Regions from separate parts of the Homo sapiens genome. Here region 1 is linked to region 2. Evidence: fine-mapped expression QTL. A gene starts in region 2. The other region holds a variant in brackets. All regions are shown on one strand. Distances are from middle to middle.

Region 1 (2,818 bases), 980 kb after region 2:
TAGGTATTTTATTCTCTTTGAAGCAATTGTGAATGGGAGTTCACTCATGATTTGGCTCTCTGTTTGTCTGTTGTTGGTGTATAAGAATGCTTGTGATTTCTGTACATTGATTTTGTATCCTGAGACTTTGCTGAAGTTGCTTATCAGCTTAAGGAGATTTTGGGCTGAGACAATGGGGTTTTCTAGATATACAATCATGTCATCTGCAAACAGGGACAATTTGACTTCCTCTTTTCCTAATTGAATACCCTTTATTTCCTTCTCCTGCCTAATTGCCCTGGCCAGAACTTCTAACACTATGTTGAATAAGAGTAGTGAGAGAGGGCATCCCTGTCTTGTGCCAGTTTTCAAAGGGAATGCTTCCAGTTTTTGCCCACTCAGTATGATTTGGCTGTGGGTTTGTCGTAGATAGCTCTTATTATTTTGAAATACGTCCCATCAATACCTAATTTATTGAGAGTTTTTAGCATGAAGGGTTGTTGAATTTTGTCAAAGGCCTTTTCTGCATCTATTGAGATAATCATGTGGTTTTTGTCTTTGGTTCTGTTTATATGCTGGATTACATTTATTGATTCGCGTATATTGAACCAGCCTTGCATCCCGGGGATGAAGCCCACTTGATCATGGTGGATAAGCTTTTTGATGTGCTGCTGGATTCAGTTTGCCAGTATTTTATTGAGGATTTTTGCATCAATGTTCATCAAGGATATTGGTCTAAAATTCTCTTTTTTGGTTGTGTCTCTGCCTGGCTTTGGTATCAGGATGATGATGGCCTCATAAAATGAGTTAGGGAGGATTCCCTCTTTTTCTATTGGTTGGAATAGTTTCAGAAGGAATGGTACCAGTTCCTGCTTGTACCTCTGGTAGAATTCGGCTGTGAATCCATCTGGTCCTGGGCTCTTTTGTGTTGGTAAGCTATTGATTATTGTGACAATTTCAGATCCTGTTATTGGTCTATTCAGAGATTCAACTTCTTCCTGGTTTAGTCTTGGGAGAGTGTATGTGTCGAGGAATTTATCCATTTCTTCTAGATTTTCTAGTTTATTTGCATAGAGGTGTTTGTAGTATTCTCTGATGGTAGTTTGTATTTCTGTGGGACGGTGGTGATATCCTCTTTATCATTTTTTATTGCATCTATTTGATTCCTCTCTCTTTTTTTCTTTATTAGTCTTGCTAGTGGTCTATCAATTTTGTTGATCCTTTCAAAAAACCAGCTCCTGGATTCATTAATTTTTTGAAGGGTTTTTTGTGTCTCTATTTCCTTCAGTTCTGCTCTGATTTTAGTTATTTCTTGCCTTCTGCTAGCTTTTGAATGTGTTTGCTCTTGCTTTTCTAGTTCTTTTAATTGTGATGTTAGGTTGTCAATTTTGGATCTTTCCTGCTTTCTCTTGTGGGCATTTAGTGCTATAAATTTCCTCTATACACTGCTTTGAATGCGTCCCAGAGATTCTGGTATGTTGTGTCTTTGTTCTCCTTGGTTTCAAAGAACATCTTTATTTCTGCCTTCATTTCGTTGTGTATCCAGTAGTCATTCAGGAGCAGGTTGTTCAGTTTCCATGTAGTTGAGCGGTTTTGAGTGAGATTCTTAATCCTGAGTTCTAGTTTGATTGCACTGTGGTCTGAGAGATAGTTTGTTATAATTTCTGTTCTTTTACATTTGCTGAGGAGAGCTTTACTTCCAAGTATGTGGTCAGTTTTGGAATAGGTGTGGTGTGGTGCTGAAAAAAATGTATATTCTGTTGATTTGTGGTGGAGAGTTCTGTAGATGTCTGTTAGGTCCGCTTGGTGCAGAGCTGAGTTCAATTCCTGG[G/T]TATCCTTGTTGAATTTCTGTCTCGTTGATGTGTCTAATGTTGATAGTGGGGTGTTAAAGTCTCCCATTATTAATGTGTGGGAGTCTAAGTCTCTTTGTAGGTCTCTCAGGACTTGCTTTATGAATCTGGGTGCTCCTGTATTGGGTGCATATATATTTAGGATAGTTAGCTCTTCTTGTTGAATTGATCCCTTTACCATTATGTAATGGCCTTCTTTGTCTCTTGATCTTTGTTGGTTTAAAGTCTGTTTTATCAGAGACTAGGATTGCAACCCCTGCCTTTTTTCGTTTTCCATTTGCTTGGTAGATCTTCCTCCATCCTTTTATCTTGAGCCTATGTGTGTCTCTGCACGTGAGATGGGTTTCCTGAATACAGCACACTGATGGGTCTTGAATCTTTATCCAATTTGCCAGTCTGTGTCTTTTAATTGGAGCATTTAGTCCATTTACATTTAAAGTTAATATTTTTATGTGTGAATTTGATCCTGTCATTATGATGTTAGCTGGTTATTTTGCTCGTTAGTTGATGCAGTTTCTTCTTAGTCTTGATGGTCTTTACATTTTGGCATGATTTTGCAGCGGCTGGTACCAGTTGTTCCTTTCCATGTTTAGCACTTCCTTCAGGAGCTCTTTTAGGGCAGGCCTGGTGGTGACAAAATCTCTCAGCATTGGCTTGTCTGTAAAGTATTTTATTTCTCCTTCACTTATGAAGCTTAGTTTGACTGGATATGAAATTCTGGGTTGAAAATTCTTTTCTTTAAGAATGTTGAATATTGGCCCCCACTCTCTTCTGGCTTGTAGAGTTTCTGCTGAGAGATCTGCTGTTAGTCTGATGGGCTTCCCTTTGTGGGTAACCCGACCTTTCTCTCTGGCTGCCCTTAACATTTTTTCCTTCATTTTAACTTTGATGAATCTGACAATTATGTGTCTTGGAGTTGCTCTTCTCGAGGAGTATCTTTGTGGCATTCTCTGTATTTCCTGAATCTGAATGTTGGCCTGCCTTGCTAG
Region 2 (2,818 bases):
AAGTACATAACCAGGACATTTCCACCGGATGGGTGCAAATGCAATACATAACTGTAACCAATCAAATACTGAATCTGGTTTGCTTCCTCATACCTCTTACAAAAGCCTTTTGTTCCAAGTCTCTCCTTTGAGCCCCCAAACCATAGTTGGATATTCTCTGATTCATAAATTGCTGTTTGTGCAAATAAACTGTTTGTATTAATCGGTTCTGGCATTACTATAAATGCCTCAGACTGGGTAATTTATAAGAAAGAGGATTAACTGGCTCATGGTTCCACAGGCTGTACAGAAAGCATAACACCAGCATCTGCTTCTGGGGGGGCCCCACCCAGGAAGCTTAAAATCCTGGTGCAAGGTGAAGCAGGAGCTTGAAAAGAAGGCAAGGGGGTTGCTATACACTTTTAAATAAGAACTTCAGGGAACTCAGTCACTATCGAGAGGTCAATACCAAGAGGAATGGTGCTAAACTATTCATGAGAAATTCACGCCCATAATCCAAACACTTTCCACCAGGCCCCACCTCCAACATGGGGTATTACATTTAAATAGGAGAGTTGGGCTGGAAAACACTTCGAAACTATATCCTAAAGATGCCTCAATTTAGGCTACGACAGTGGCTCATGCATGTAATCCCGGCACTTTAGGAGGCCCGAGGGGGGCGGATCACCTGAGCTCCGGAGTTCGAGACCAGGCTGAGCAACATTGCAAAAACCCGTCTCTACCAAACAAACAAAAAACAAAACCACAAAACCAGGCGAGGTGGCGGCGCATGTCTCCCTAGTCCTAGCTACTTGGGGAGCTGGGGTGGGAGGATCATCTGAGCCCAGGAGGTGGAGGCTGCAGTGAGCCGAAATCTTGCCACTGCACTTTAGCCTGGGCACAGAGTGAGACACTGTCTCCAAAATAAATAAATAAAATAAGCCACAATTTTTAAAAGGAGAAAGGAGGGACTGGGGACCCCAAGGCCCACTGCTTCTTCCACGGAGGAACTCCAGACCCTGAATGAGGATTCTCGTCTTATGACGTCCCCGCACAATCTGGAGGAGACTCGGGATTGCGACACAGAGCTGCCCAAAAAGTCTCTGGGCTGGAAAGAAATTCGCGTTTATGGACAAAACAAGACGCTCGGGTTTTGGCTGCAGGCTCAGCTCCTAATCTGCGACGGAGGGAAGTGAGGACTGAACTGTGCCCACGGGGACTCGGAGCTGCTGCAGAGCTGACCGCGAGGCCAAGATCCCACCGCAGCCAGTTCCGACCGGATTCAAACAGCCTCTTCCCCCTTCTCGGGACACCCACTCCGCGCACTCACCATTTCCCAGCCTCCGGATGTTCCGCCTTCTTCCCTATGGATCTCCCAGTACCTGCAGGTCACAGGATAACAGGGGCTATGGTGGAGTCACCGAGGAGCTAATGGAGCGGAAGAGATGGAATAGTACAGACGGGTACTGGACTCAGAGCCTAGAAGCTAGGAGACGAAGGCCTTGCCATATTGAAGAGCCCGCCTCTTCCTCTCTAGCTGCGCACCTGATTGGGCAGTTTTCACGCTAGCACCACTGATTGGCTGGGGTTCTCCGCCCCACACATTTAGACCCTGATCGACAGGAGATGTAATGAGACACTGGGCTGAATGAGGAAAGAGTGACAGGTTTTTGCCTGCAGCATGTTCAGGCAGCGATTTCTCCTTGTGTTGGGGGCCTGGCCCTGCCTGAGGGACATTTGTATTTAACGTTGTATATAAGATTATATCACTTTCTGATTATATTTACGTGTGTGTATATCAATTTCTGAATTATAGTTATGTGTATGCTGCAGGCCCTGTCTCAGCATCCTGTCTTTCCCTTTAGTTGCAGGAGATCAAAGTCCTCCAGGAGATGCAGCTGCACCAGCTGGCTGCAGACAATTATCACCTTCAGTCTGTGAAGCAATTTTGGGTCTGCTTCCAATTAATGGAGTGTCTCAGTGAGACTGAGAGGTGAGGGCCTAGCAGATTGGTTAGTGCCACTCACCCAGACCTCCCAAAACACCCTGTTTCTTTCCCACCAAAGCTGAGCCTGCCTGAGGACCTAAACAAGCATGGAGAACGAAGATGGGACCCTAGTCAGGGATAGTGCTGGGCTGTGGGGTAAAGTCAGCTGGGTCAGTGCCTCCAGGTGTGGGAAGGAGCCGGCCTCTTCTCTAGGGCCCTGGGCAAGTCACTGCCCTCTTTGGGCCTCTGTTTTCTTATCCAAAAAATGTAGGGATGATGAGACTGAGAGGGGCTAATGATGAGCTTCAAAGGAGAAAAGAACTTTGAGAGTGCTTGTGCCTGGCTCTTCCTGAGATGATGAGAACAATGGTGACAGCTACATATAACTGAGTCCTCACAAGGCCCAGTGAGGTAGGTGGTTCCCATCACACTTTCAAGTTGAGAAAACAGTCTCAGGGAGGCCTGGCTGCATGCCCAAGGTTCCACATACAGGGAGTGTTGGAGCAGGGAGTCAATCTAGAATCAGAACTTACTGGAGATGACAGGAGCATTGGACCAGCTTACTCACACCAGTTATCCAGGATACCAGGTCAGTGTAACTGGGCATAACTGGGTGAAGGGAGCATAGTATCACTGACCTTTTCTTTGACTCTGGCAGATGAAGACATCCACGTTGGCCACCCTGGAGACGAAACCACAGAGAGGCCAGATGAGGCTAAAGCAGCAAAAAGGCAGTGTCCCTGTGATGGGGAGGAGCTCCAGGGAGTCAGAGGGAAGAGCTCCTCCCTCACAGCCGGAGGCCTCCACATCAAAAGAGCAAGGGGCCTTTCTCCCGTAGCCCTTCCCTCCTGT

The links.
Region 1: its variant is fine-mapped to the expression of ZNF727 in whole blood (TOPMed, PIP above 0.99).

The regions. Positions count from the first base shown.
Region 1 is chr7:63,061,694-63,064,511 of GRCh38, reverse strand. No RefSeq gene overlaps it. Among named protein-coding and RNA genes, the nearest start is that of LINC03075, 290 kb to the left of the region's middle. The variant G/T (reference allele first, on the strand shown) is at 1,811.
Region 2 is chr7:64,044,116-64,046,933 of GRCh38, reverse strand. ZNF727 (zinc finger protein 727) reads right to left here and starts at 1,500. Exons shown (of 4, transcript NM_001159522.3): 1 at 1,310-1,500. The coding sequence starts at 1,312.